Linked DNA regions of Homo sapiens: all the other regions are linked to region 2. Evidence: fine-mapped expression QTL. A gene starts in region 2. Each other region holds a variant in brackets. All regions are shown on one strand. Distances are from middle to middle. Region 1 overlaps MTARC1 (mitochondrial amidoxime reducing component 1). Region 2 holds the start of HLX (H2.0 like homeobox). Region 3 has its middle 120 kb from the start of HLX-AS1.

Evidence for each region.
Region 1: its variant is fine-mapped to the expression of HLX in cerebellar hemisphere (GTEx, PIP 0.90).
Region 3: its variant is fine-mapped to the expression of HLX in whole blood (INTERVAL, PIP 0.94).

The regions. Positions count from the first base shown.
Region 1 is chr1:220,807,967-220,818,678 of GRCh38, forward strand. MTARC1 (mitochondrial amidoxime reducing component 1) reads left to right here. Exons shown (of 7, transcript NM_022746.4): 7 at 5,326-10,712. The coding sequence ends at 5,452. Among named protein-coding and RNA genes, the nearest start is that of LINC01352, 16 kb to the right of the region's middle. RefSeq lists enhancers at 4,751-5,950, 10,563-10,712. The variant C/G (reference allele first, on the strand shown) is at 5,208.
Region 2 is chr1:220,873,676-220,884,387 of GRCh38, forward strand. HLX (H2.0 like homeobox) reads left to right here and starts at 5,768. Exons shown (of 4, transcript NM_021958.4): 1 at 5,768-6,774; 2 at 7,519-7,698; 3 at 8,489-8,673; 4 at 10,520-10,712. The coding sequence starts at 6,183. It overlaps HLX-AS1 (HLX antisense RNA 1), which reads right to left and starts at 6,465. Exons shown (of 3, transcript NR_046901.1): 1 at 6,174-6,465. RefSeq lists a silencer at 5,325-5,374 and an enhancer at 6,493-7,101.
Region 3 is chr1:220,996,362-221,007,073 of GRCh38, forward strand. No RefSeq gene overlaps it. Among named protein-coding and RNA genes, the nearest start is that of HLX-AS1, 120 kb to the left of the region's middle. The variant G/A (reference allele first, on the strand shown) is at 4,430.

The sequences.
Region 1 (10,712 bases), 66 kb before region 2:
ACCCTGAGTGTTCTTCCCTATAAAATAAAGGAGGCAGGACAGAAATAGATGATTCTGTGTAAATCAGCCAAGTGGTTTGGGGAATTGGCTGTCATCCTTTTTTGTCCATCTTGTTCTTTCTCTTCCCCCTGTGTGTTGCTCGGTGTGGGGCATCCTTCCCTCTGGATTTAGAAGGTTTATGCTCTTGCAGAAACAGCCTCCGCAAAGCACTTCACGTGTTTGGGCTTGTTCTCTGCATCTTCAGTGCCCCCCTTCCTCCATTGGGAGCCTGTGTTTATAGAAGGAGGATAATTGACCCTAAACACAGAGTGAGGGTGGGAAGGCGGGGGGCGCAAGGAGCCAGCACACCCCCCTGATCTTCCGCAGGCTTTGTGAAGCCCAACAATCTGGCCCTAATTGCTTCTAATACCCCAGGAGACAGTGCGGCCAGCCTAGGTGTCTTCTCCTATCTCTTACTGAGATTTAAATTGCCATGGATGTGTAATTTATGTTCTTCCCAAGACAGGTGGTCATAAATCGGGAAGAGAAAGGCCTGGCCACATCCCATAAATCATGGGAAGGGAAGCAAACAGTGGTGTCCACAGCCTCTCTGCTATTGGGCAGGTTGCTCAGAGCTACACCACTTTCTGCCTCTGGGCACTCATGGTGCCCATGGCTGGGGTTGCTTCTGGAATGCCAGCGCTCAGCTGGGAGACCTCTGTGCCTGACCAGCCCTGCCTCCTGATGTTAGTCACCCACAGGCAGAGCCCGCGGTGGTACAGCAGTGGGAGGAAAAGAAATACAGAGGCATAGGGAAGCCTTTGTCTGTAAAATGCTCACAGCGGGAGGCACAGTGGAGGCATGTCTGCTAACAGGAAGATATGAAAATGGAATTTTTCTTTTCTTTCTTAAGGGAAAGTGACGTACACACTGATCCCCATGGTTGAAGGAATGGCTGGAGTCTGCCGTTGTTGCTTCCATGACATTTTGCCCCTAATGGAAAGAATATAGCACAGTTACTGCATGGGTACTCAAAAAAAAAAACGTTTTGCTGGATGCACGAATACTGTGACAGTAATGACATTTGCCAGCAGCCACTTGTGTCAGGCTGTGCTCTGCTGAGCTAAACACAGAATATATAGCAGTGGTAACTCCATGGGAGGAGGCAGACTCTCCACCCTAGTCTGGCTCTGTCACCTCCTAATTGTGTGACATTGGCAAGTCGCTTAGGCTCTTCAAGTCACAGTTTCTTTATTGGTATAAACTGGACTTGTAATACCTCTTCTGGTAGACTGGAATAAGGCAAGATATAGGATTTTTATAGATGATAAAATACTGTACACAGTGACCATGTAAGCTGCGGTCATTGAGAGTCACTGTTTATAAACTTGACACCTTCTGAGAGGAGGAGAAGCCTGACCACACTTCTTCCCATACTCAGAGGCTGCTTTAAATGAAACCTAACACGAACTTGCCCAGCGGCCAGCCTCTGGAGGTTCAGTGTGGCACCTCTCCCAGGAACGTTCACGATGCCGTCTAATTCTTCAATTTAATTTAATTTAATTTAATTTATTTATTTATTGAGACAGAGTCTTACTCTGTCACCCAGGCTGGAGCACAGTGGAGCAATCTCAGCTCTCTGCAACCTCCGCCTCCTGGGTTCAAGCAATCCTCATGCCTCAGTCTCCCAAGTAGCTGGGATTACAGGCATGCGCCTCTACGCCTGGCTAATTTTTGTATTTTTAGTAGAGACAGGGTTTCACCATGTTGACCAGTCTGGTCTCAAAGTCCTGACCTCAGGTGACGTGTCTGCCTTGGCTTCCCAAAGTATTGGGATTAACAATGCTGTTTAATTCTTAACCTGGCCATAGAGATAGGCAGTCATGAGGCCTCAGGAATGGCTTCTGCCGCTGGTGACTTATGGTCCCATGAACGCCAGTGGTGGGATCGGGCAGTGACCAGATACTCTGCCTGGAGTCATGGCCTGGACGTTGACCAGTGAATGCGTAAACCAGGCAGGGTAAACAAGGATCAGCCCTCTGTGGTGCACAGCACTTTAACGGTAACAAACTGTTTCCATTTACATTGCACCTTGTAAATAATAGAGACCTCGGTTTTAAGCTAAATAAAGTGTCTTGGGCTTCCTGCTCATTAGAATAGTTATGTTTCATGTTCATTTAAGGAGAAAGTGCACTAAGGAAGATTTTAAATGAGTTTTAATTTATTAATACCAACAGGAATACATATATGAAAAGTCACATATTTAAAAAATCGTAGAAGACCCATGTATGAAAGAATACTGTTTCAGAGTGTTGAACTTAGTGTGCGCACGAATTCATAGACTGCTTGCAATACCTCTTAGTGCCACAAGGCGCCGCTAGTGACCTCGTTGAGTCTTCCCACAGCCTGGAGGCGGGCTTCCGCAGCAGTAGCAAGAGGAGGTGGTGCAGGAGGCGGTGAGAGCCCGCAGCAAAACCAGGCAGCTGTAGGAAAGCCCTGGCAGGCCGGCCCACCGAGAACCCCTTTTCCACTCCCATAGCTCTTCCCGCTTCTACTCCTAGACAGCGGAGTGGACCGCCACCTGTGAGCCGGTGACCACACCTGCACTTTCACAAAGCAGCTCCCTCACCCCGACCTGTGCAGTTTAGGGAGGCTGTGCCGAGAGGGGCAGCCGCTCTTTACGGTCCTCTGCTCCTCATTACCTGGTGGGGGAGTGAGTGTGTCTGTGCTTGGTTGGCAGGAAGGGATAGGTGAAAAATGTAAGTGGCTAGAAATTGGTGTAGGTGACTAAATTGTGAGACCCCTCGGTTCTTCTCAGGCCTGTGGGTGTACTCAGGAGGATGTCGACGACCAGGGTTACATCCTGGGTGGGAAGAGTCCACTAGACTCTGAAGTCAGCCAGGCCTGGGCTCTGGCCCCAGCTGGATCCTTTAGATCTGTGATCTCAGGCAAGTCTGTTACTCCCCCTGAGACTTAACTGTAAAATGAAGAAAAGGCAAATTCCCACATAAGCAGGTTGTAAGGATTAAAAAAGAGAACATGTGTAAAGTTCCTTATAAACTATCCATGTGTGATGCGCAGAACTCCAACTCTCAATTTCTCCCCAAGATAATGAGAGTCTGGACTCTTAGACTGCAGAGCTTGGCAGCAACGGAAACACCCATACAAGCAGCTGATGTGTCCCCTGTTCCTGAAGAGGTCACCCTCTGACAGATAGATCTCAGAATGTCATGAATGTTGCATGCTGAAAGAGGAGAGCCAGGCTAGGAGAGATGCCTGGTTTGTCAGGTCCAAGGGCATTGCAGAAACCTGATTACAGAGAGAGGAAATACTCTTGGCAAGGCAGGGAAGCCTGCATCAGCAGCTTGTTATTTTCATTCATCCATTCATTTGTTCATTCATTGTTCAACCAACATTATTTTTGAGTGGTTACAGTGTATGTGTGAGGCACTGTTCCAGGCCATGAGAATGCAACAGAGAACAAAGTGGACACAGTGCTGCCTACAGGATGTTTACAGTCTGGGGAAGGAGCTGCAGGTCTCCAGAAGGTGGTTCTAGATTTGACTCTCTGTTTTCTCCTTAACAATTTCTGATTTGAAGAACAACATTAGAACCAAGTTGTTGCAGTCACTTTTTCACTTTTTTTTAAAGCAAGGCAGAATAAAATGAATGATTTATCTAAAATGTTTTAAATATAAAAATGATGTAAAATTAGGGTTAGATTAAATAAAAAACTGAAGGTTAACTTCTTCCCAGTGGGGAAGGTGGGGGAATCTTGCCATGTGAGTCCCACACATCTGCTCATGTACCCTCTCCCTGCGTCTTCTTTAATTTTCTGCTGGACAAAAATATTCATATTTATACTGCCTCTGACAGACGGTTTTACTCATGAGCATACTAATCCAGCCAGCAAACAATGGTGGGTCACAGGTGATGTAGGAGGCCCGGCATTGGGCGTGAGCAGTACAAGGGCATTAATCACAGTTCCTGTTCTCCAGGGACTCTGCCTTGTAGAACAGACAAACTTGTGCCCTGACATTACAGGACAAGATGTGTGAGTATTGGAGGGGCAAAGAGAATTGAGGAGGGGGAATTACTCGTAGCTGGGGGAACCTGGGCTTCCTTCCTGGGAGATGTGGTGTTTGATTTGGGCCTTGAGGCAGGTACAATTCTAAAGCATGGGGACCTGGAGGAGGAGCATCCCACAGGAATCACAGAGGACTTACCGAGTCAGTACAATGCAAAGCAAGGTGAAATCCAGCAGAGAGCTGCAGAGGCACAGGTAAGGAGCAGATGGCAACAGGTCTGAAAAAGCAGGCTGGGGCCAGGTAGAGCCCTACATACCAGGCTGAATAGTTGGAATGTTATTCTTTAGGCACTGGAGAGCCACGGAAGGTTTGTGAGCCTAGGAATGATAAGACCAGAACACAATTAAAACAGTGATATAGTGCAGTGTCAACAATGAATTGAAAACAGGTAGAGAATGAGGAAAAGAGGTTGGTTAAGAAGTTATTATGATAGTCTGAGCATGCTGGAAGCAAGATCGTGACAGTCGGAATGAGGAAAAGCAAGCCAAGTCAAATGATGTTGTACAGGAAGAACCTTGGAACTCGGCAGCTGCGGACAGGCTGTGGGAAGAGAGGACAGTGGTGTAAAGGATGGGCTCCCAGCCCAAGTGACGGCTAGGATGGTGGTTCAGGTGACAGACATGGAGGAGACAGGAGGAAAGATGCCTAGGGCAAAGGAAGATGATAAAGTATGTCTAGACACATTGAGTATCTAATTTTTTTTTTTTTTGAGACGGAGTCTTGCTCCATTGCCCAGGCTGGAGCGCAGTGGCACAATCTCCGCTCACTGCAAGCTCCGCCTCCCAAGTTGATGCCATTCTCCCACCTCAGCCTCCCGAGTAGCTGGGACTACAGGCACCTGCCACCACTCCTGGCTAATTTTTTGTATTTTTAGTAGAGATGAGGTTTCACCGTGTTAGTCAGGATGGTCTTGATCTCCATCCTGGTTGTGATCTGCCAGCCTCGGCCTCCCAAAGTGCTGGGATTACAGGCATGAGCCACCACACCTGGCCAAGTATCTAACGTCTTAATGCCGAAAGGGGGAACATGAAGGTAGAGAAAAGATGTGGGGATGTGGCCATTGCTTATGCTTCTGTCGTTGTTTGCTGGGCAGGCTGTTCACTGCCCCACTCCAGGAGGCGCTGTTCTGTTGAGCTTTGA[C/G]GGGATGGTGCCCTCTCGAGCTGTGCGTGCGGAGGCCCTGTGTGGGATGGAAGCCACGTGCTGGTTGAGCTCTTGCATCCGCTTGGCTGTGACTCATCATGATCTTTTCCTATTGCAGTTATCGCCAGTGTGACCCTTCAGAACGAAAGTTATATGGAAAATCACCACTCTTTGGGCAGTATTTTGTGCTGGAAAACCCAGGGACCATCAAAGTGGGAGACCCTGTGTACCTGCTGGGCCAGTAATGGGAACCGTATGTCCTGGAATATTAGATGCCTTTTAAAAATGTTCTCAAAAATGACAACACTTGAAGCATGGTGTTTCAGAACTGAGACCTCTACATTTTCTTTAAATTTGTGATTTTCACATTTTTCGTCTTTTGGACTTCTGGTGTCTCAATGCTTCAATGTCCCAGTGCAAAAAGTAAAGAAATATAGTCTCAATAACTTAGTAGGACTTCAGTAAGTCACTTAAATGACAAGACAGGATTCTGAAAACTCCCCGTTTAACTGATTATGGAATAGTTCTTTCTCCTGCTTCTCCGTTTATCTACCAAGAGCGCAGACTTGCATCCTGTCACTACCACTCGTTAGAGAAAGAGAAGAAGAGAAAGAGGAAGAGTGGGTGGGCTGGAAGAATATCCTAGAATGTGTTATTGCCCCTGTTCATGAGGTACGCAATGAAAATTAAATTGCACCCCAAATATGGCTGGAATGCCACTTCCCTTTTCTTCTCAAGCCCCGGGCTAGCTTTTGAAATGGCATAAAGACTGAGGTGACCTTCAGGAAGCACTGCAGATATTAATTTTCCATAGATCTGGATCTGGCCCTGCTGCTTCTCAGACAGCATTGGATTTCCTAAAGGTGCTCAGGAGGATGGTTGTGTAGTCATGGAGGACCCCTGGATCCTTGCCATTCCCCTCAGCTAATGACGGAGTGCTCCTTCTCCAGTTCCGGGTGAAAAAGTTCTGAATTCTGTGGAGGAGAAGAAAAGTGATTCAGTGATTTCAGATAGACTACTGAAAACCTTTAAAGGGGGAAAAGGAAAGCATATGTCAGTTGTTTAAAACCCAATATCTATTTTTTAACTGATTGTATAACTCTAAGATCTGATGAAGTATATTTTTTATTGCCATTTTGTCCTTTGATTATATTGGGAAGTTGACTAAACTTGAAAAATGTTTTTAAAACTGTGAATAAATGGAAGCTACTTTGACTAGTTTCAGATCTTACTAACTTCTTGGCACAAAGTTAGACTGTGAAAGCTGACTGAGGCTGGGCACAGGGGCTCATGCCTGTAATTCCAGCACTTTGGGAGGCCAAGGTGGGAGAATGGCTTGAGCCCAGGAGTTTGAGACCAGCCCAGAAAATATAATGGGATCCTGTCGCTACAAAATGTTTTTAAAATGCACTCGGTGTGGTGGTGTGTGCCTGCAGTCCTGGCTATGGCTACTCGGGAGGATGAGGTAGAAGGATTGGTTGAGCCCAGGAGCGGGAGATTGAGGCTGCAGTGAGTTATGATTGCACCACTACACTCCAGCCTGAGTGATAGAGTGAGACCCTATCTCTAAAAAAGAAACAGGAAAAAAAAAGAAAGCTGACTGAGGTGAATGGGCAAAGCCAGTAATTCTGACACCTGACCACAGCTGGGTCTTCTGCATAATGGACCTCCTCACCCACAGCCTCCCAGGCAAGCACCCATGTTTGAAGGACTATCAAGTCAACATGCTTTTTACCAAAAGCTGCACATTTTTCACTTTGATTTTATAAAAGAGGTCAGTAATCGCTGAAATCTAGCTGAGCCCTGAAGTAAAGTTCTGAGCAAAGAGGTGCATGTGCTTGTTTTATGGTTGGTGAATTATTACAGTTTGTTTTCTGCATGCTTGGCATGAGGTGAATAATTACATCAATTTTCCAGAGAACCTGGGCCATCACCTTCCCCAACAAGTCCAGTTGATGTTGAAACTACAGATAGATTGAGACAAAGCGAAGTGTTCAGCAAGTAGCATTACTAATGGGACCGGGGGACCCGTGGGAGAGTGAGTGTACACAGGATTTAGGAAACCATGTGAATATGGGCTCTCTGGGAATAGCCAATAGGTAGGGAGCAATCAGAAACCCAAGGTTTGGTGGCTCTTCCTAGGTATTTATAATTAGTGGCAAGTGAAAGCCTTAGTCCTGAATTTCTAACCACTTGTAAGAACTAACAGCCACTTCTCTGTGCCCCGTCCGGGCAGTAACCATCATTCTCCATGGACAGGCTCTCGGGGTAGCTAGCTCTGCAGGGCAGCACCCACGTGGAAGGGAGCACCCAGAAACCCTCCTCACTGGGCAGACCTGTCCTTCTGTGCCTCACAGTGTGAGGAAGATTCCTGTTTGAAGAGAGAAGTTCCAGTGACCTCTAGAATCTCAGAGTAGTTGCCAAGCTTTCTGTCAGTGAGATTTAAAGGCCATTTACTTGTGTTTATTTTATATTTAATGAGTTGGTTAATGCCAGAGACAAAGCTGATATCCCATTTATTTTGGATACTGAGCATTTGCACACTATTCCACTTGAAATATAGAATCAGGAATGTAGGCCATCCCAGACTTTCAGATCTTACAACAGCAAATGACAGATGTTTGAGATCAGGCCAAAATATCCACCCTCGGTGGGCATCTCCTCTGTGTGGCAACTTATGCTGCAGCCACAGTGGGGAGTCACAAACTCAGAGCTGGAGGTCTTGAAAAGGACAATGTGGGCCAGGCTCCGGAGGGGCTGCCTAAAGGCTTGCTTTTGTGACTCTCCTGCAGAAAATGTTAGAAACTTCCAACCGAAAGACGAGGGCAGCAACTTATACACACGAAGGCAGAAAGAAATTGGGGAAGGGGAGGCTGTTGGAATTCAGGCCGTTGTCCTATAGGGAGAAATACTCCTCCTCTCCTTCTCCCTTTACTGATAACGGGGCATGGTGAGGAGATGAGCTTGTGAGGGTCTGCCAGTTTGGTAAGAGTGCATGGGGAGGTTGGGTAAATTAGACTAGCCAAATGGGACTTCGGGAAACCATTTATGAGGCTGTCACCAACAGTGATGGCAGGCTGAAATTCCAGGCAAGTGCTCCCAGCATTCCAAGAGTGTATCAAATTAAAGCAACCCATGATGGTGGAGAACAGATACATTAAAGTTCCTTGAAAATGACAGAGTGGCTCTCAGACCAGACCTTGATTGTGGGTATAATCGGAGTGTTGCTACCACACCCTAACACTGCATTTCCCGTGTTTTATTGGTCCATGGAATTCTGAAAGTTTGCCTTTCGGGATGCTTCTAAAAACAATTCCATGGACCAGTAAGTTTGGAAAGTCCTGCGTGCCTCACTTCTCTTCAAAGGCAAAAGGCTCTGGAGAGGCCTTCATGAAGACATCTGTGTTTAATGCTGCCCTTCCCAAAGGTCTGTTTTTGACTGTCTTTTGAGAAATGATCCTCTGATCTCTAGGCAGAATGCCAGTGAGCCAAGGAATCCCAGTTAGCAGGAGGGGTGCACTCATGGGAAGACTGAAGAAGTTAAAAGTTCCCGCCAAGTGAAGGAGACCTATCTTGGGACACTTCCCCTTGTCCTCTCCCTTGCCCCTCTTGCTGGAGTAAAAGGATGGAACTGGGACTTGATAGGTTAAAGGAGGTGTGGAGAAGTGTCTTAGACCAGCTCTCCTGTTGTGGGCCTTAGGGAGAAGCACTCTCTTTCTTCGGGATCATTTTCCAAACATGCATTTTTGGATGGATAGGGTGGATCAGGGTGAGGGAAGGGAAACCAAACTCTCTCTAACCTTGCCCTTACAGCAATACCTGTGATGTAAGTTACAAAACCACCTGTGATGAAAGTGCTCCAGGATGCTTCATGCACCAGGGAGGGGTGCCCTGTTTCTCTTCTGCTAGCTTCTCCTTTCTTTTTTTTTTTTCTTCTTTTTTTTGAGACAGTGTCTCACTCTGTTGCCAGGCTGGAGTGCAGTGGTGAGATCTCAGCTCACTGCAGCCTCTGCCTCCCAGGTTCAAGCAATTCTTCTGCCTCAGCCTCCCGAGTAGCTGGTGTGTCTGGAGTTGGTTCCTTCTGGTGGGTTCTTGGTCTCGCTGACTTCAAGAATGAAGCCACAGACCTTCGCAGTGAGTGTTACAGCTCTTAAAGGTGGCACGGACCCAAAGTGAGCAGTAGCAAGATTTATTGTGGAGAGCGAAAGAACAAAGCTTCGGAAGGGGACCCAAATGGGCTGCTGCTGCTGGCTGGGGTGGCCACCTTTTATTCCCTTATTTGTCCCTGCCCATGTCCTGCTGATTGCTCCATTTTACAGAGTGCTGATTGGTCCATTTTACAGAGTGCTGATTGGTGCATTTACAATCCTTTAGCTAGACACAGAGTGCCGATTGGTGAGTTTTTACAGTGCTGATTGGTGCATTTACAATCCTTTAGCTAGACACAGAACACTGACTGGTGCATTTATAATCCTCTAGCTAGAAAGAAAAGTTCTCCAAGTCCCCACTAGACCCAGGAAGTCCAGCTGGCTTCACCTCTCACTGGGACTACAGGTGCACACCACCACACCCAGCTAATTTTTGTATTTTTAGTAGAGACGGGGTTTCACCATGTTGTTCAGGATGGTCTCGAACTCTTGATCTCGTGATCTGCCCGCCTCGGCCTCCCAAAGTGCTGGGATTACAGTTGTGAGCCACCACGCCCGGCCCTAGCTTTTCCTTTCTGTTGCAAGTCCTCTCAACTAGTGTTGCCTTCCACCCTACAAAGCAGAATTACCTCAGAAGTCCTATGGCCCTGACTCTATCTATGTCTGCACAAAGCACTACTGTGCTTTGCTGTCTGCAAGAACAGAGATTGTTTGCTTCAACCACTTTCTCTGAATGGATGAATGAGTTATGATGATATCTAAAGTTACCCAATTTCAAGCAAGAGGAAGAATCTGGCTCGGTACCACAGATGTTCTTGGAATTGGGATAGTAAAAAAGTCCCTGAGGCATCCCTTGGTCTGCTCTGACCACACTCTCTTCACAGGAAGAGGCTTGGGCCACAGCTCTGACTATAACTCTGCTCTTCCTCCAAACACAGCTGAGGAATTGGGTGGTGGGGCACCTGCTCCCATGCTCTGTGGCCTGGCTCAGAGAGAAGAGTTGCCTTAATTACATTATTATTCTTCCTGGACAGGCTGTAGGTTGTGTAAAGTAACAAAAAGGACTGAGAAGTGACTTCCCATTCAGCCTCTTCCAAGGCCATTTTTGATAGGCAGGTCAAATTCACTCACATTTGGTTATTTGTTGGCCAGTCTAGTGCATTCACCCTTGCTGGTCCTCAGTCATGCTCCTTTACCTTTACAGAGCATCCTAGACTGCTCTTCCTCTTACCTTCCTTGTGAAACCCACAACCCCTAGTCCCTCCCCTTCCCTGGCATTTGTTATGCCCTCTACCAATCCCTGACCTGGTATTGGTCAGTCTCCAATCCTGGTGGATCCCTGTGGGAACTAAGTTAA
Region 2 (10,712 bases):
TTGAATTCTGATTTAGAGCATCCACCCAAATCAAATTTGGGCCTCATTTGGGTAGATGCCCAAACTAGAATTTAACAAGTGGCATGATACTGGGAGGCAAGGAAGTCTCCACATTTAATGCTGAGGAGAGAAAGAAATTTCAGGACAGGGAAGTGTGTCTGAGTTAGACATACTTCTTTTCTACAGCTCCTTGTTTGAAATCAATACACATTCTGATTAAGGGCAGAGAGTTTTTCCTCTGAATAAACCATTTCCCCTGAAGAAATTGGCTGGATGGTATAATACCGGTTGATGAACCAGAAAACCTAGCCTCTGTTCCCTCCAACACCATTTCCCAACTACGTCACCTTGGGCAAGCCACTTAACCTTTCTGAGGATCAACTTCCTAAAGTCAAATGGGATAATAATCCCTCGTCGGCATCCTACAGTTGGTTATTTTAAAAAAGTGAGATAATAAATGTGAATTGACCTTGAGATCTGTAAAATGTACACAGTATTATTCCTGAACCATGACTGCTTCCCTTGCCCGGTCTAGTGATTTTAAGCACACAATACAAGATCTTCCCATATTGTTGCAATATGGAAGGAAACAGCTGCTAGTCAAAGCCAGTTTTAGAAACCTGCATTTTTGCAAAAGGAAGAGTCAACTTTCATCATAACAATGTTGCTGGCACAGGATGGTTACTGCCATAAAACAATGTAGAGATGGTCCAGCAGGTGTCAGCAGAGAACCAACTTTCAGTACTAGGTGGGCTCCTCCAGGGAGGGAGATGCCCGGGCCTGGTGGGCTGGGACAGGGCTGGGGGGACTCCGTCATTAAATCCAGGGCTGTCCCAGTTCTGGCGGGTGCTGGTAGGCAGATTGGGACCACTGAGATGGGGACAACAACCCATTGGCTTTATCTGCAAAATCCCTCTCATTGGCTCCAGGATCCTCTCCCTTCAGAAGATCCCTTCCCATGACTGTTTTTTAGTCTGGGCCTGAGTCCCTCTTCTGGCCCTAGAACCTGTGCTCTAACTTGAAAACCTGTCTCACAGGGAAGAAGGTTTATTTGTTTGTTTAGAGAAATACTGCTTTGGGAATGCCTTTCATCCCTGTCTGTTTTGGATATATGTTTTTCACCTACTCCTCCTTCTCCTACCTTAACAACCAGCCATTCAGATTCAATAATTCAGGCAACAAATCCAAGGTGAGTGGCTAATGTATGGGAAGTGGGAGAGCACTGTTTACAGCTACTAAATAGAAGCCCGTGCAATGAAGTATGTAAGCTCATATATGCTACAGATAGTCTCTCATATTTTACTCTTATGATTTCATTGCAAATGTATATGAGTCTGTTATAATGTGCCATGTTGAAATGGGTTCTGCCATAGGTTTTATGAGATTTGGGGTCTTTCTTGGCTGGATGTAGAGAGGATGACTTGGAGAGGCAGAGAAGCAGCTCTTTGAAACAGGAGCAAATCCCAAACTGCCTGCCTCCCCTCCCCTCCACATTTCTAAGATTCCCAGAGAGAGAGAGAGAGAGAGAGAGAGTGTGTGTGTGTGTGTGTGTGTGTGTGTGAGAGAGAGAGAGAGGTACATATATGTAAAGTGGTATATCTTAGTAGTGAGGAAGGGAAATATGTGAGAAGCCCTATGAGAGGAAAGGGCAAATGGAATCAGAGCCAAAAGGCTGTCTGAAACTTTGGAGCAAGACCTATGGATAAAGTTCAAGGGCAGGGCCACAGCCAAATAGAGAGCTGGCCACCTGCAAATCTGCCACATCTGGGAAATGGAGAAAAGGAAAAAGAATAAATCAAATAGCTATGGATGTTTGTAGCCCTATTGCATTATTTGCTTTTCCCACCCCATAGCAAAGTCCAATTCTTCTCAAAAACTCAGAAATTCTGGAATAACTCTAAGGTCTCCAAGGAAAGAGAGTTGTGTCCTACTTAGAATAGGCCAAAGTATGCGTGTGTGGGTAGGGGGTGTGTCTATGGGGGATCATTAGAGTCCTAATCTCTAGTATCTGGCACCCACAAAGAACAGAACTCCCATATCCACCACTAAGTATGACTGCTGGGACCAGTGATCCATAAGTCTCCAGCTGGCAGAAAGACAGGCACAATATACACAGATTCCTACGTTGCTGCAAATTTCTTGAATTCTCAAGTAGCTGGATAAGCTGTGTTTCTTTTTCTTTCTGATTGTAAATATTTAATTATTTACATCTCTTTTCTTGAAGCCAGTAGGTACCATGTTTGCAAGAATATTTGAAATTAAGAGGAGAGGGGTTCCGAAGTCCACAGAGCAACTGCCTTGCACATTATTTTACCCAGAATGCACAAGAAAAAGCAACACAGATAGCAGATATAGCCAGTTCAAGTCCTTGAAGAGTTATGGTCCTGTAATATACAAGGCCCAGCATTCACTATAATTGACCTGTGCTCAGTGTGGATCTGTGACTCTGGTTTTGGGACAAAAGTCTGCACTGATGATTTAAATATGGAGGCTCCAAAGACAGGTAGAACCAAAGGATGGTGAAACCCATCTCTTGCCTCAGTCATTGCATAAGCCCCTGATTCAGGACCCTTTTAAACCCTAAATCCCCATAAGCTATATTGTTAAATTATAAAACGAACCTTCTCTGATCTTATCCATTCCCAATATGGTGAAATCGTCTTTGGCTGTGTTTAACTAGGAAAAGTGAAGGGATGAGTTGAAAGCATTAAAAACAGCAGTCAGCATGATCAGAAACCCCAGCCAATGCGATATTTTCCAAAGAAAAGAGGCCACAGTTAGGGTCTCCGCTGCGTAGACCAAGCTCAAGTTAATTCGGTTTAGCCAGGCCCTTTTCTTTCCTGTTAAATTCTCAACCCCCATGGCTACCAGCCCCTGGGGAGCCCTCGCCTCTACCCCCAGGACCTCCCTGCCCGGCTCAGTAGCTCTGGGCCAGTTCATTTCGCCACAGCCCGGAGCCTCTCGGAAAGCAAAGATTAAAGGGGAAAGTCGCAGCTGTATATTTATATTTTCATTGCTAGAAGGGAATTGATTTCCGTGCATTTATTTTGGTAGTTGTAATACATAAGGGCGGATTTGCGTCACCCGAGCAACTTGCCGGTGGAGATAAAGTTGCACAAATATTGAAAGGGGAAGTGCTAGGAGTCATTATAGAGTTTTTCTCCGGAAGAAATAAGGATTTCTGCAGTATCCTAAAATACTAAGGCCGCTTCTATTTTGAGACCAATCTCGCAGGCACATCCGCTCATTTAGTCCCGAGTTTGAGCCCATCAAAAAACAGGAGATGACCTGAACTCCGGCGAGCCCAGGGTTTCCTGCTGCTTTCTTGGTTCTGAAGAGTGGGGAGTAAGGAGGGCGGGAGTCTGCGGGCTCAGAACTCGGCGAGGGGCCTGCAGGGGCCAGGCTTGGGCCTGGGGAAGGGGTAGAGGGGGCGGCGGGGGTCGCTCCAAAGACTTGTATTTCGCGTTTGCCTCCGGGAGCTGGGAGTAAGGCCTTGGATGGCGCCGACGCGGTTGCGAGGAAGCTGAGGCCTGGGAGAGCAAGGGGCGCGCAGGCGAAGTTGCAACTTGCACTCCAGCCGCGGGCCTGGCGGAGAAAGGGAGGCTCGCGGCGCCGCGAGGAGTCGGCGGGCCTCGGGGCCTCGCTTTCGCCGCATCTGCCCAGCGCTCCGGGCCTTGAATCTCGGCAGATGCGAGTTGTGGGCACCTAGGGAACCCTGAGGACTCGCATTCCCCCGGGTCTGTATCCCGTGCCCACCCCGGAGCGTCGCAAACCTTGGAAAGGGTGAAAGCTGATAGGGGAGTCTTATTTCTTAAGAGAGAGGGTGAGGGCGCGCGGCGCTGCCTCGGGTAAGGAGTAAATGCACCTCTTTCACAACCGTGAGTTTGGGCTTAGGCTGAGGTCTAAATGTTTGCAGTCAAATTAGAAACGCAATCAAACTGGAAGTGGCACTAGAAAGCAGAGGGCTCACGGCCTCCGCTACGCACACTCCCACCGAAGGCTCACCAGAACCCTCAGCCAGCGCCTCAATTGCCCATGTTGTACTTGTCGCTCCTTTGCCTTCACCTTGACACAGAAAAACTGGTCTTAATACGTCTCTCGCCCCAGGTACCCCTACCTTCAGCCAAACACACCCATCTATCTCTGGAAATAGCACCTCTCTCCTGGTTGCGTGGAGCAGGGGAAGAAAACCTTTCAGTAAAAGAGAGATGGAGAGCGAGAGCGGGAGAGCTGGAGGGCGGGAGGAGGGAGAGAGAGAGGGAGAGGGAGAGATCTTAGTGCTGGCTGATCAGAAGTGATTGATAATTTTCCAGGAGAAAGTCAAAAGCTTAAAAGGATAGCATCTGCATCAAGGGGCTAGAGAAAACACCAGAAATTAATTTTATAAGCCCAAACCCTGAACTCGAGATAGGCATGGCAAGTTCACTTGCTTTTCTGGGTTTATTTGGTGAGGAGCCTTCGTGCTGAAGGGAAATAAAAATGTCACAGAATCCCTGTTAGGAGATGCTTATTAGGGCAATCGAAAACAAAAGTTTTCGTGGTTTCATTATTCGTATTATTTTATTTTCTTCCTGAAAATGTGCAAGAACAGCTCATCTGGGTGGCCTGTGGTTTGTTTGGGAGAGGGGTGGGGAAATTCATTCTGACTATAATTTAAAGAGAAGAAATTCTTAAAATAGATATGTCGATGTTGCACAAAACCTCCACCACCACTACCCTGCGTTCTAAAGACCCAAGGCACGAATGGAAGACGTTGACCACCACGCAGCTCCTCCTGCAACCAGGCCCAAGGGGTTCCTGGGGAAGCTGTCACAGAATTGAAAGCAGTATTGAACCCCACGGAAATCTGCTCTTGTGGGCACTTGCAAAACAACGAACCCCACGTGATCCGGAGATGTGGTGGAGGGGTGAGGCTAACATTTCCTACAACCTCCTGCAAAGGATGGAAGCGCGTGCCGCTCTCCCGGGTTTCGGGAGGCAGCCTGTTTTGTAGCCTCTGAGGCTCCGGGGAAAGGTTTGGCTGCGTCTAAGAGAGACGTTTGGAGCCATCCGTCTTATTTTGTTTGAAAAGTCACTCGTTCAATTTGTCACTGTGTGACAGCTCAGAATAAAACCAATTTGCGGCCGCCCCTCCTCCTCGCTTCCCGGAGGATCTCCTGGGAGGCACGAGGCGGACGCGGTGCTGAGTTGGGCCGGGACTCAGGGCGGCAACATTTGGGCAAGGGCCCAGGAAAGATGAGGGGCTTTGCCGAGGACACGGACTCCTGGAATAAAAGCAGAATGAGGTCAAGAGAAGGGAAGCAAAGGGGCCAAAGCGCGCTCCGCTCTCCACCGGGAGGCGGGCTTTGCAGAGCCCTAAAGAGTGAGATTACCGTCCCTTCCCCACGCCCCCAACTCGCCCCGGGTGACAAGCGCTTCAGGAAAGCTCCTGTGATCAACCCTCCTTGCCCCGTGGCGGTTCGGAGCTGCAGAAGTTAGAAGAGAGTCAGAGCCCTCCGGAGCGGCTGCCTGGCCCCTACGCAGAGTAGCAAGAAGCACTGCGATGTGCGCTACTAAGCCCACGCGGCCGCAGCAAAAACTTTGGCGTGGCCGGGGCGTGGCTAGGGTCCGGCCAGGCCCCCTTGTTCCTAATTCCCCTCCACTCCCCGCTCCCATTGGTCACGAGGATGACCAATGAGCGCTCGGATCGAGGTCCTACCCCGGGCCTGACTCGAAAGCTCCTGCCAAAACTTTGGGAGTTTTTAGAGACGAGTTTTTTTTTTTTTCTATTACTTTTCCCCCCCCCTAACTAACGGACTATTATTGTTGTTGTTTTAAATTTAGCTCTTAGGGCTTAGCTATTTGGGTTTTCTTGCGGTGTCCGGCTCCCGTCTCCCTGGCTCCCCCGCCCGCCCTGCGGCCCCAGCGCCCCTCGCTCTCATCCAGCCCGCGAGGAGTGCGGGCGCCGCGCCGCCTTTAAAGCGAGGCCAGGGAGCGAGGCGGTGACCGGCCGAGATCCGGCCCTCGCCTCCTCCCTCGGTGGCGCTAGGGCTCCCGGCCTCTCTTCCTCAGTGCGGGCGGAGAAGCGAAAGCGGATCGTCCTCGGCTGCCGCCGCCTTCTCCGGGACTCGCGCGCCCCTCCCCGCGCGCCCACCCACCCAGTCCGGCTGGACTGCGGCAGCCGCGCGGCTCACCCCGGCAGGATGTTCGCAGCCGGGCTGGCTCCCTTCTACGCCTCCAACTTCAGCCTCTGGTCGGCCGCTTACTGCTCCTCGGCCGGCCCAGGCGGCTGCTCCTTCCCCTTGGACCCCGCCGCCGTCAAAAAGCCCTCCTTCTGCATCGCAGACATTCTGCACGCCGGCGTGGGGGATCTGGGGGCGGCCCCGGAGGGCCTGGCAGGGGCCTCGGCCGCCGCCCTCACCGCGCACTTGGGCTCGGTTCACCCGCACGCCTCTTTCCAAGCGGCGGCCAGATCCCCGCTTCGACCCACCCCAGTGGTGGCGCCCTCCGAAGTCCCGGCTGGCTTCCCGCAGCGGCTGTCTCCGCTCTCAGCCGCCTACCACCACCATCACCCGCAACAACAACAGCAGCAGCAACAGCCGCAGCAGCAACAGCCTCCGCCTCCGCCCCGGGCTGGCGCCCTGCAGCCCCCGGCCTCGGGGACGCGAGTGGTTCCGAACCCCCACCACAGTGGCTCTGCCCCGGCCCCCTCCAGCAAAGACCTCAAATTTGGAATTGACCGCATTTTATCTGCAGAATTTGACCCAAAAGTCAAAGAAGGCAACACGCTGAGAGGTAGGTCTTGGGCGGGAGGCTGCAGGCCTCTGACCACTGACCCACTCCCCGGACCCCGGGCTGGCTTGGGGTGCCTTTGAGTGTTTTTACAATTAAGGACAAATCGGTAAAACGGGAGAGAAGAAAACGAATTGTAAGAAAACTACAAAACATTAGGTCTAAAACTCACCTGTTCTATGTAAAACAAACAAAAAATGACTCCAGGGATTCTTTAAAAACACGTCTTAGAATCAATATTTATAAAAGTGGTTGGTGTAATTATCTGCTAACATGACTTTGATCTCTTTAATAATGTATCTAGAGACAGAATTATATTTTCTGACAGCTAAAGCATTTTTGGGAAACACTTTCGCACTTATCTGATTTCTAGTAAAAATTTCACCCAGGAAATGTAAATAATAAACAAAACCGCCTAGATGAGCGGGCAGAGTGGGGCCACCTTGGGGCGGAGGTTTTGCGTCTGTGGCGTTCTTGGAAGACACGTGAAAGTGAGGCCGTAAGCCGATTTATGTAAAGCCTTTACTTACTATATACATGCATATGGACGTGAGGGACACACAGGAACTTTTCGTGCGTCGCTCCTTGGCAACTGTTGGGAGAGAGAGGTTTCAGCGCCTAGACGGGTTCTCTCTTGACTTCGCTCAATAAAAGTGAATCCAGGGCAAGGGGAAGGGGAGGAACAAATCAGCGGAGAGTGTGAGTGTGCCCGAGATGTAACCTGCTATCCTTTTCCCTTGTCCCCAGATCTCACTTCCCTGCTAACCGGTGGGCGGCCCGCCGGGGTGCACCTCTCAGGCCTGCAGCCCTCGGCCGGCCAGTTCTTCGCATCTCTAGATCCCATTAACGAGGCTTCTGCAATCCTGAGTCCCTTAAACTCGAACCCAAGAAATTCAGTTCAGCATCAGTTCCAAGACACGTTTCCAGGTACGGAAAAACTCCAGAGTACTGCCTAACGGGCGAGCCGACTAACAGTCAGAAATCTCAGGACTGACGCCTCCAGGGCTGCCACGGTGTCGCAATCTCACAATTGGGGCGGGAGGCTACGGAGTCAGGAGAGAGAAACCGAAAGATTTCTCAGCGAGCTAGCGCTCGCTTCGGATGGTTCCCCTTGAAAAGGGGTAGAGGCGCCTGGAGATCCCAGAAAGTGTGTGCGTGGACGGTGGGGTGGGGGGCTTTCTCGAAGTCTTTTCGCCCCAGAGGGCTTGAAAAATGCAGCATCAATGTTGCTTATTAGCATATACACATTTTGGGATGACCTCAAACACTTGTGCTTGGCGAGTTTATGTCTGGGTGCCTGGACACATGCGGGAATAAACACACACACACACACACACACACACACACACACACACACACACACACACGAGATAATTCAATTCAGGGCTGTCATCATTCAGGCCCAAGGGACATTTTTGTCTACTCTTCGTAGGCCTGATGGCCACGCATGAGGTTTATGTTTTTCTCTTGGAATTAAAGGACAAGCCGCCAGGCTTCTCCACTCCACGCTCGCTTTAGGTCTTCCGACTGTCGTGTAAAATTCCTCCTTAGAGGGGCCATTCGGTGTATGTGCGAAGGGCTTTCTGAATGAGGGTGGAATCGACAGTTAACACGAAACAGTTTCAAGCCTTACGGGGACCCCCAGGCTGGCAGGTCAAGGACTGGACACTGAACGGCCCTCTTGTCTTTCTTCCCTCTGGCTCCCGTTCTGCGGCAGGTCCCTATGCTGTGCTCACGAAGGACACCATGCCGCAGACGTACAAAAGGAAGCGTTCATGGTCGCGCGCTGTGTTCTCCAACCTGCAGAGGAAAGGCCTGGAGAAAAGGTTTGAGATTCAGAAGTACGTGACCAAGCCGGACCGAAAGCAGCTGGCGGCGATGCTGGGCCTCACGGACGCACAGGTAAGGCAGTTCTGGCTCCAGCGCACAGCGCCCTCGGGCGGGCAGCAGCGCACGGCCTAGTCTGGTAGGTCCCCTCCATCCCGGCCGACTGGCCTCCTGCGGTGCAAACGCAAGATCTTGACTTTCAAGAGGCTTTGTGGACTACGCAACTTGAGGCAGGAGAAGAGGAGGGTGGAGATGGGGTGAGGGAGAAGGACCGAGAGAAGAGCTCATCCCCAAGATGTGTGTCAACAAGCACTGCATGTTTATTTTGGCCAACAGGCTAAAGAACCACGGAGAAAGCAAAAGGGCCGCTGGAAATAACACTGATACACTCAACTGTAGTGCAATTCGCTGTAGGAGGCAGTTTATTTCAGAAAAGATAAAAACCCAAAGGCAAGAGATTGTTGTTGGGTTTTTTTCCCTCTCACCCTCCCTCCTTCCTCCTCCTCCTGCTGCTTCTGCTGGATTGTGAAATCCCCAGTTGTGAGGAAGTGAAAATATAATTTCAAACGGAATTAGTTAGCTCCAGGAGGGCAGGGAGTCTGCTTGGAGTGGCCACACATTACAAGGCTTAGGCTCTGAAGAAAATCTGAAGGAAGGGGAGAGGTGAGGGAAAGAAAGAAAGAAAAATGATTCTCTTAGAATACCCAAGAGCATTTCAGCAGGTTCTGCCTATTTGAATTTTTTCAAGACAATAGGAAATGTATTGTGGCTGAAATAATTTTATTCTTTTTCTTAAATTTAAGAACTGGGCTTCCCCACCCCCCACCACCCGAGCTTTGACTGTGGAAGAGTCACTCTTGTGCACCCCATAGCACTGGCTCTGGCTCTGGGGTGCTGATTTTCCCCAGCAGGTCAGAAGCCAGAGGCAGGCTTCTTTTTCTTAGCTCCTTGGTCCCCAAATTGCTGTCTCTGTTTCTTTCTGACCTCCATTACACAACTCTTCTCCCCAGTACACACACACACACACACACACACACACACACACACACACACACACACGAGGAGCCCAGCCGTTTTCCACCAGCTGTGGATGTTATTTTTAAAAGGGAAGCTGGAACTTGTGTGAATGCGTTGGGTCCCCCAGGGGATCGTATATATCTGTATAGATTCTCTGCCCCATCTCTATCCCCTTCCTTAATTTTGCACACATTTAATTCCATTGTTTTCTGAGCCCCCAGGAGAATTTGTTTATCCTTAACAGGGGCAAGGTCCTTATCAGCTCTTGCGTACAAACACACCAAAGAAATGCTGTCTTACTGAAAGCCCAACAATGCCCCCACCCTACTGTGATTAACAGTTTAAAACCCCTTTCCCTTTCTGCTTCCCATGTTTCCTTTTTTGAAAAAAGTATTGCTTTGGGTAGTGGCAGTAGAGGAGAGGGCCAACTTAGAGCAGGAATTCTTAACACTGGCACACCAAACCCTTGACATTGTAAGCAATATCTTGGGCATATGTGTATTTTTCTGGGCTAGGAGTCCATAACTTTAATCAGATTCTCATGGGGGTCCTGGCATAAAAAAATTACATGGATTTAGAGTAGAGAGAGAGTATGTTGGGGGTCGGGTGCAGGAATCTGCCTTTCCAACAGTCACTCAGGTCATTTTAGTCCTGGGGCCTGAGGGTTGCATTTTGAAAACGGTCTTAGTGGGTTCCCTAGGCCAGGATTCCTGGCTTCTTGTGTTCCCCTGGGCTGCCCCTTGGCTCCTGCGCCTACCACAGTGTCTGGTCCTTGGTAGAGTCGCCAAGTAAGCGTTGCTTTTTCACTCAGGGAGGTGGCTTGAGGGTGCACGCGAGTCGGATAGGAGCAAACCTGGGTCTCATCTCGGTGTCTCTTCTTGTCTCCCGGTGTGGCGCGGCGCAGGTGAAGGTGTGGTTCCAGAACCGGCGGATGAAGTGGCGGCACTCCAAGGAGGCCCAGGCCCAAAAGGACAAGGACAAGGAGGCTGGCGAGAAGCCATCAGGTGGAGCCCCGGCTGCGGATGGCGAGCAGGACGAGAGGAGCCCCAGCCGTTCTGAAGGCGAGGCTGAGAGCGAGAGCAGCGACTCCGAGTCCC
Region 3 (10,712 bases), 120 kb after region 2:
ACAAACAACCCCATCAAAAAGTGGGCGAAGGACATGAACAGACACTTCTCAAAAGAAGACATTTATGCAGCCAAAAAACACATGAAAAAATGCTCATCATCACTGGCCATCAGAGAAATGCAAATCAAAACCACTATGAGATATCATCTCACACCAGTTAGAATGGCAATCATTAAAAAGTCAGGAAACAACAGGTGCTGGAGAGGATGTGGAGAAATAGGAACACTTTTACACTGTTGGTGGGACTGTCAACTAGTTCAACCATTGTGGAAGTCAGTGTGGCGATTCCTCAGGGATCTAGAACTAGAAATACCATTTGACCCAGCCATCCCATTACTGGGTATATACCCAAAGGACTATAAATCATGCTGCTATAAAGACACATGCACACGTATGTTTATTGCGGCATTATTCACAATAGCAAAGACTTGGAACCAACCCAAATGTCCAACAATGATAGACTGGATTAAGAAAATGTGGCACATATACACCATGGAATACTATGCAGCCATAAAAAATGATGAGTTCATGTCCTTTGTAGGGACATGGATGAAATTGGAAACCATCATTCTCAGTAAACTATCGTAAGAATTCTAAAAGTTTTGACGATTACGTCTAATCATGCAGTCAACACCACAATGAAGACAGAGAACAGTTCCCTCACTTCCCTACATTTTCTTCTATTACATTTTAGTTCATCCCTCTCCCCACCCCAGCCTTTGACAATCACAAGCTTATTTTCTGTCTGTATACTTTTGCCTTTTCCACATGTTGTATAAATGGAGACATACTCTGTGTGTCTGTGTATGTATGTGTATGTGTCTTGAGAAACAAAAACAAAAACAAAAGAAAGAAGGCCTACAGGATCACCACACTTGGTGAGACTGGCATAGCTGCTCAGCCAGAATTCTCCATGGCGAAGTCCTGAGTTTGAAACTCTCTTAACTGTTACCTGCTAGTGGAAAACACTTGGCAAGTCAATGGATATTTGAGCCTAAGTTTTTTCACCTGGAAAATTGGGGGTGGGAGAGGGTTAATACCTAGCTCACAGGACTATGGTGAGTATGAGATGGGATTAAATATGTGAAAAGGTTTAAAGCACTAGCAACTGCCCGCATCAATCATTAGAGATCCCCTGTCCAACATTGTTATATGTGAAATCTAAGGGAAAATTAGAATCAAGGGCCCCCTTGAAACCACAAGGAGGCAAGCAAAAGTGTGGAAGACATGGGAAGGACAGATCCACTCTTTATCTTGATGGTGGTGGTGGTGGTGGTGACAGCAGGGGTCGGGTGGGTTCTGGCCTGATCCAATGTGTATTTGGAGTTTGGCAAAGTTTCTTTTCTCACTGGCATCTCTGTCTTTTCTTTCTACTGGCTGCTTTCCTTCACAAGTACCCCCGCCCCCCGCCCCCCACCCCCCACCAAACCAAGCATACAGGCCCTGAAAATGTAGGGTAAGGTGTAATTTGTTTCCCCAGAATTCAGAGCCAAAATGTTTTACCTTTCAGATCTTAGTGCTTGTCAGCTAAAAGTAAACCATAGTTTAGCTTCACCTAATTTCCCAATAAGCGTTGCAGTATATCATGAAACAGAAATGAAATTAAGTGCTCAGGAATTTCTCATGCACCAACCGCAGGCTGCAGCAGGTGCTCCTCCCCTCCCAGCCTGCCTCTGGAGAGTTCCCTTGTGGAGGTTGTTATGACTTTCCTGTTTAGCAAGGGTCTGTGTTTTCAAACCATCCAGGTTTTGATGTGTCTGGCAGGTTGGTAACCTTGTCCCACCTTCCACAATAATCAGTTTTGCCTCCCGAGGTTGTGACAAAGTGACTAGGAGCTCCAAGGAATGGGATCTCCCAGCTCATCTTCTCACATCGATTAGGGTTTAGTTTGTGAGGCTGGTGGGCAAGAAGACGTTCTTGCACAGCATGGAAAGGAAGGGGCCATACATTATGAGAGTGAACTTTTTAGGCTGGCTGAGAGGGGATAGACACACGCGCCATGCCTGGAGAGCTCATCTTTGGGGGCTATGAGGTATCTAAACAGTCCTCTTTTGCTGTGTCACTGCCTTTATTACTAGACAGAGGCAGTGGCTATTGTATTGTGATGTGGCTGTACTGTTACGGTTTAAAGAGCAAAATCCACATCCCTGAATGTGAGCATATGACAGTGGCCAGCTCATAAAACAGGGCCCAGATCAGGCTTTAGTGGTGCCTACACATTGAATGAGTGAATAAATAATAAATGAATGTGTGAAGTCATCTATGGTCAGTAACCAGGGAGGAAATAGTTTCCGGATTGTAAACAGAACCACTGGAAGGGCCCCAGTGGTGGGAAGGGAACCATTATCACCTTGGTTCTAGCTGAGAAGGATGTTCCTGATGGGAGAATGGAGACTACATGGGCTTAACACAGGGATCTGGTGTAGGAGCCATGGCAGAGGGCCATGGGTGCCAGGCTAAGCAGTGTGGGCTCTATCCCGAAGGCAAGGAGAGAAGACAGTAAACATTTTTTTTTTCGTTTTGTTTTGAGATGGAGTCTAGCTCTGTCACCAGGCTGGAGTGCAGTGGTGCAATCTCGGCTCACTGCAACCTCTGCCTCCAGGGTTCAAGCGATTCTCCTGCCTCAGCCTCCCGAGTAGCTGGGACTACAGGCACGCGCCACCACACCCAGCTAATTTTTGTATTTTTAGTAGAGACGGGGTTTTACCATATTGGCCAGGATGGTCTCGATCTCTTGACTTTGTGATTTGCCTGCCTTGGCCTCCCAAAGTGCTGGGATTACAGGCATGAGCCACCATGCCCAGCCGACAGTAAACATTTTTAAGCCTAAATGTGATATGAATGCAGATCTCTCATCTATCTATCTATCTATCTATCTATCTATCTATCTATCTATCTATCTATCTATCTATTATCGATCTATCTATATATATAGTCTTTCTATGGACTGAAGTGTGTCCTCAAAAATTAATATATTGAAATTCTAACCCTGCAAAGTGACTGCATTTGGAGGTAGGGCTTATGGGAGAGAAATAAGATTAAATGAGGTCATAAAGGTAGAGTCCTAATCAGGTAGGATTGGAGTCCTGATCAGATAGATCTGCCATACAACAAGAGGAAGAGAGAGGGAGAGAGCTCTCTCTTTCTTGGAATGCACACACTGAGGTAAGGCCATGGGAGGACATGGTGAGAAGGCAGCTGCAGTGCCCTCATCAGATGCCAACCCTGCTGGTATCTTGATCTTAGACAGCTTGTAGAACTGTGAGAAGTAAATTTCTGTTTTTTAAGAGACCCAGCCTATGGCCTTTTGTTATGGTAGCCCAAGTTGACTAAGATACAGAAACAAAATGAGACTAGCCAATTCTCCAGGCCCAATCAGGATCTGGCAAGGATGGTCACCTGAAATTGTGCAGGGAAATTTAACAAGGGTTGGGGGCCGTGGATTATCTCTCAGAGATGAGGCAGAGAGAGACCACCTCCCCAGAGAAAGTACAGATGGCATCAGGTTTGAAGCCTTGGCCTCAACATGCTCCTGAGGCTCACTAAATCCTTAAGAGGATGCATAAAGAAGAGACTCACATTGTGGGTTGACATTTGCAGGTTGATCCCAGGATTGAGACTCTCCAGATTTGAGTGCCAAGTCCCAGATCAGCACAGGCATGGCTGCAGCCCCAAGTGTGATGAGCAGAGGTGTGGTCAGCCAGCATGGGGCCTGGTACAGAGGCTGGGCGGGGACTCACCCTGTGTAGGGAAGCCCAATATACAGAGGCCAAGAACTTGTATTTTCTTTGTATCCTGTCAGCAACCTGTGCAGTAGCAAATACCTAAGAGGTTTACAAGCTATGTAGGAAATATTTGGCAAGAACAGTGATCTGTTGTGACATGGCTTATGCATGTGTAAATTTTTTCCTAATCACGATGTAATCTGATTTTGTGGCTATGTAGCCAGTCAGGGATTAGAAAGGTAGGATTTAAGTGTTACCAGACAGCTCATGAAATAATTGGTTAAGTAGTCTTCAATTAAGTGTAAGTGTAGACTGTTAAAAGCACAATAAATCTCTTATAGGTGTTGGAAGTACACCCCAACCCTGCCCCATCTGTCCTCATTCAAAGCCCCTTCCTCCCTCTTCCTTCCCCTGTCCCGAAGAATGACATAATTTCCTCACTGGTTGTCAGTCCTACATGATCCTTATGTGACTGGGCAAATAAACAGCATCTGCCTCATCATAATGGCTAATAATACCAGGTCCCTTCCAGGAAAGTTTCAAAATAAGAGAACTAGATGAGAAAAGCAATTGCCACATATTTATGGCCTTGAATGTGCTTGTCACCGTGCCATGTCCTCTTACGCATTTCCCCTTTTCTCCCAATCATCATTGTGTTTTTACTCCATTTATTGAGAGAGTCATTTTGAGGAACAAATGGTTTC[G/A]TTAAGACACAGGCAGACCTGGCCTGATTAACTCTAGCAGGATAGGTCTGACCAGAAGAGGCCAGGGCATGAACCAATCTTTGCCCGCTGGACTGGGAGGGAGATGATTTGAGGAAATTAAATCCAATAGGTAGATTTAAGGTGGTAAACTGGCAGGTACCAGGCATAGGAAGAGCCAACAGAAGGTGACAAAGAGTCTAGCCAGGCCAGTGGGGCAAGGCTATGGGGATTAACAGACAGGGATCACAATAATAACCAGCATTTATTGAGGCCCCCACTATGTGCTGGGCACTGTTAGATGGTTTCTTTGCAGTATCTGTGACTCTGACATAAAACTGATGCTCTAGCAAATTTAACACCCTTTAATGCTCATATCAATCATTCAAAGTAAAGATTATTATTAATGTGATTGTACAGAATGGAACAAAGCATTGAGAGGTTAAGTCCCAGACCACACGGCTACTAAGTGGTAAGGCTGTAAGTGAAGTCCAGAGTTGACTCCAAAGGCCGTGATCTTCCTCACCACAGGCACACACAGGCACACACATGCACACACAGACACACACATGCACACACAGACACACACATACACACACATGCACACACATACACACACATACACATACACAAATATACACATTATGCCTGGATAGACTGCGGCCGGAGAGAAGTTCACTCATCCAAGTAGCAGCCCAGCTTCCCTGACTCTGTCACTTCACCTCTGGAGGCCTGGAGGGTGATGGTTAGGCTTTGGGACTATTGCAAGCTCAGGCCACTCCTTAGTGATGTGGAGCAGGAAAGATCTGGTTCTCCAAATATCTTTTACACAAAAGCTGAGGAATAAATTGTGGGCCAAGAAAGGAGGAGAGGACTGTGTGGGGCTCAGAAATATGAAGATAATAATTTAGGGGAACAGAGGAGAAAGGAAGTAAATAAGGAAAAGAGAAGGGGAGTGGGTCAGGGCAACAGGGCCACAAAACTAATGAACAGAAGGAAGGAGTCTTGGAAGTTATGGAGACAATGGGCTAATTAAGTCAGCCTGCAACTTGGTCACAGGTGGGACCAACAGCTTCTTGGACTTATGCACAATCAGAAGGCCCTAGGGTCATGTGAGTTTTGGGTATGTATGTATGTATGTATGTATCTATCTATCTATCTATCTATATCTATCTGCCTATCTACCTATTATCTATCTACCTACCTACCTATCCATTTATCTATCTATCCATCCATTTATATCTATCTATCTGCCTACCTATACATTTATCTATCCATCCACTTATCTTCTATCTATCTATCTATCTATCTACCTATCTAGCCATCTACCTATCTATTATCTATCTACCTACCTACCTATCCATTTATCTATCCATCCATTTATATCTATCTATCTATCTATCTATCTATCTATCTATCTATCTGCCTACCTATACATTTATCTATCCATCCATTTATCTTCTATCTATCTATCTATCTATCTATCTATCTATCTATCTATCTATGTATCTGCCTACCTATACATTTATCTATCCATCCACTTATCTTCTATCTATCTACCTACCTATCTACCCATCTACCTATCTATTATCTACCTACCTACCTACCATTTATTTATCTATCCATCCATTTATATCTATCTATCTATCTACCTACCTATACATTTATCTATCCATCCATTTATTATCTATCTATCTATCTATCTATCTATCTATCTATCTATCTATCTATCTTCATCATCATCATCATCATCTCTATGAACTGAAATGTGTCCACCTAAAATTGATAGGTGAAAACCTTAACCCTCAATGTATTATCAGTGTTTGGAGATAAGACTTTTAGGAGAACATTAAGATTAAAGGAAGTCACTCATGTTCTGAATGTGTTATAAATTCAATTTTCCTGTCTGAAAGGTATGCAGTGGTGTAGGCGGTATGTGTTTAACCAAAAGAAGAAACTGAATTTTCCACTATTAATGGGAAGTACATAATAGTTTCTATTTGTGTGTTCATTACCTATGTGGTGTTTCAAATTAGTATTCCTGTTGTAAAAAGCTACCACTCTCTTAGGCTTCATCTTGCTTGAGGGCCACTTCCTTCATCTTGAAACTTCTCTGGTCTCTGTGATTCGCATTGCTTGCTGGTTCTCTTGCAGCTCTCTGCCTTTCTTTTGCGGTTCTTCTAGTTCATTTTCATCAGCTCATCCCTTAAAAATTGAGCTCCAGGCCAGGTGCAGTGGCTTACACCTGTAATCCCAGCACTTTTGGAGGCCAACGCAGGAGGATCTCTTAAGTCCAGGAGTTGGAGACAAGCCTGGGCAATATAATAAAACCCCGTATCTGCAAAAAATACAAACATTAGCTGGGCATGGTGGTGCACACCTGTGGTTCCAGCTACGTGGGAGGCTGAGGTAGGAGGATCACCTGAGCCTGGGGAGGTGAAGCTTGCAGTGAGCCGGGATCACACCACTATACTCCAGCCTAGGCAACAGAATAAGACCCTGACTCAAAACAAACAAACAAACAAACAAAAAACAGAGGAATTGAGCTCCACCAGTTTTACCAGGTGGCTATTGCTGCATAACAAGCAACCCCTAAACTTAGTGGCTTTAAATGATGGCCACTTATTTAGCTAATAGTCAGTACATCAGCTGATCTCAGCTGGGCTCCTCCTCTATCTGTGGCCTGCTACCAAATCAGCTGGAGCCTGGCTGGTTTAGGATAGTTTTAGCTGGCACGGCTTGTCTTGACCCCATATGGTGTCTAACCTCCAGGAGGCTAGCCTGACCTTATTCACACAGTGAGAGCATTCTAAGGGAAAGAAGAGGAATGAGCAATGCCCTTGTGACTTGCCCCCCAAAAATTCCAAGGGGAATTTCGTCCAGGCCTGTATTTTCTGATTTCTGATTTAGAACAGAGGATGAGCACGTGATCCCGCTGAGAAGTAGGTGTGTTTCTTACAAAATAATTAGAGACTTTTCCCACTTGATCATCTATTCTTCCTTGTGCTTTTCTAACCCCCAGCCTTGACCCTGGCAGGACCCTCCCTTTAGGGTGCCCTCTTTTGCAACTTTTCCCCCTCTTTCTGTCTCTGATTCTCTTCCCACCCCTCAGGACTTTTGTCATTCCCTTAAACAGACAGAAAATTCCCCTCATGACGAGGCCCCCTTCTTCGGGCCTAGGCTTGGACCTTGTACAAAGTCACTTCTGCATTGTATGGAAACAAAGCAAGTCACAATGGCAGTCCAGGTTCAAAGGGTAGAGAAAGAGACTCTCTTGGTGGGAAGAAAGGCAAAGTCCCATTGCACAGAGGTAAAGGTATGGAAAGGCATGAAGAATTGTGGCCATTTTCCCAAAAAATCTGCCTCACTAAGATTCTACCTTTGGTTGTTCTAATGTTCTCTTTAGATAAATTTGACTAATGTCATAGTGTTCCCCTTATCCCATGCCCCATGATATCACATATTGTCTTCTATAAAATTTAATTTTATTCTGTCAAATTGAAGACTGCCTGTACTTTTGTCGTCACCTTAAATAGAAAATTCTGCAGCAGTGCATGGTCCAATTTGTTGAAAGGATTCTGCGTTAGAACTAGTGGCACAGACTGCTCTTTTTCTACCAGAACCAGATTCTTCTCTTCTTTAACAGGAGAACTGATGAGCATTAGCTGGTTATTAGAGTTTCTATGACTTTTACTCTCAACAGGTCTACTTTTGCCCAGTTATTAGAGACTATATTCCCAGCCTCCCTTGCAACATTAATCAGGCCATGTACCTTATTTCTGGCCAATGGGATGTGAACAGAATAAAAGCAAACCAAGGAAGGAGTCTTAGCTGCCCTGCCTCTTCTTCTTTTCCCAGGGCTTGTCCCCAGCGACAGAAACTACATAGAGAATGGCAGAATCATCCTATAAGATCTGGAGTATCTACTTCTGAATTGTGAAATAAGAGAAAAATAAACTATAATCTTATTTAATCTTTGAATGAGGGGTCTTCAAAAAGTTCATGGAAAATGCATAGTATGAAAAATTACACATGAGTTTCATCTTTTTTTGCACCAAAATAAACTTGTACTAACTTGTTTGTCTGAACCCGATCTAGTTTGAGGCACAAAAGATAAGACATCTGTTTGAAAAGAGCCCCAATCAGGGCAACATAAATTCTGCTAAAATCGAAGCAAGAACAAACAACAAATTTATGATGAAGCTTGGGTGGACAAATGGCAAAACCATTGGTGTTTTACAAAAAATTTATGGGGAAAGAGTCCCCAAAGAAACCGGGATTTTATAAATGGACAACTCATTTTAAGAAGGGATGAGATGATGTTGAAGATAAAACCCACAGTGGCAGACCATCCACATCAGTTTGTGAGGAAAAATTTAATCTTATTCGTGCCCTAATTGAAGAGGACTGAGGATTAACAGCAGAAACAATAGCCAACACCATAGACATCTCAATTGGTTCAGATTACACAATTCTGACTAAAAAATTAAAGTTGAGCAAACTTTCCACTCAATGGCTATCAAAACTCTTGTGCCCAGATCAACTGCAGACCAGAGAAGAGATTTGACAGAAATTTTAAACAAGTGGGATCAAGATCCTGAAGCGTTTCTTTGAGGAATTGTAACAGAAGATGAAACGCAGCTTTATCAGTATGGTCCTGAAGACAAAGCACAATCAAAGCAATGGTTACCAAGAGGTGAAAGTGGTCCAGTCACAGCAGAAGTGGACCAGTTGAGAGTAAAGTCATGGCAAAGGTTTTTTGGGATGTCAAGGAATTTTGTTTGTTGACTTTCTGGAGGGCCAAAGAACATAATATCTGCTTGTTATGAGAGTGTTTTGAGAAAGTTAGCTACCACTTTAGCAGAAAAACTTCTGGGAAAGCTTCGCTAGAAACCAATTGTCCATGATGACAATGCTCCTGCTCATTACTCTCATCAAAAAGGGCAATTCTATAAGAGTTTCAGTGGCAAATCATTAGGTATCCACCTCACAGTTCTGATTTGGCTCCTTCTGACTTCTTTTTGTTCCTAATCTTCAAAAATCTTTAAAGGGCACCTATTTTTCCTCAGTTAACAACATGCAAAAGATGCAATGACATGGTTAAATTCCTAGGACCCTCAGCGTTTTGTTTGTTTGTTTGAGACAGGGCCTCACTCTGTTGCTCAGGCTGAAGTACAGCCTTGAACTCCTGGGCTCAAGTGATCCTCCTGCCTCAGCCTCCCAAGTAGCTGGGACTACAGGCTTGTACCACCATGGCTGGCGAATTCTTTTTTTATTTTTGCAGAGATGGGGTCTCACTGTGTTGCCCAGGCTGTTCTTGAACTCTTGGCCTCAAGCTGTCTTCCCATCTTCGCCTTCCAAATTGTGGGATTACAGGCATGAGCCATTGTGCCTGATCCTCTCAGTTCTTTAGGGATAGACTGTATGGCTGGTATCACTTACAAAAGTGTATTGAACTTGATGGAGCTTATGTTGAGGAATTGATTTTATTTTTTATTTTTATCTTTAAATTCCATTTTTCCATGAGCTTTTTGAAGTTCTCTTCTATTTGTGAGGGCTTATATTACAGAGTTTAGCTTGTGCCCTAACTAATATGGTGATGAGAGAGGAGTGTGAATGATGGCAAGTGACTATTGAAATGCCAGACTGGGGTCCCAGTGGCCTGTTGGGATTCAAGGTGGGAGGTGGTACCACTCCTTCCATTTTTTTCTTTTGTTTTCCACATTATTTAACATTTCTTTGGTTTTCTATCTCCTCTTTCTCCAAGGCATTTCCCTTCTGTTCTCTTTTTTGTTCCACATCATTTCCATAGTGGTGCTGTGGGAAATCTCTTATAACCTTGATCTTAAGAGAGAAAATTAGCAACCACAATGGAGGTTAATCATATTATATTAGACATCAAGAAGTGTGTTTTATTTTGAAAAAAACATAAGAGTTAAATATAATATTGTGGGTGTTTGTATGCCCTTCATCAAGCTTCTCCCGATGTTAACATCTTTCATAACCTTCGTACATTTATTAAAACTAAAAGATTAACACTGATATAGTACTATTTGCTAAACTATGCACTTTATTAAGTTTCTCCAATAATGTTCTATTTCTACTCCAGGGTCCAGTCCAGTCTACTATGCTACATTGAGTTGTCATGTGCCCTTAGTCTCTTCCAATCTGTGATAGCCTCTTGGTTTTTCCTTGTCTTTAATGACCTTGATACTTTTGATACTATTTGGTCAAGTGTTTTGTTGATTGTCCTTAAATTTACATTTGTCTGATGCTCTCTCATGGC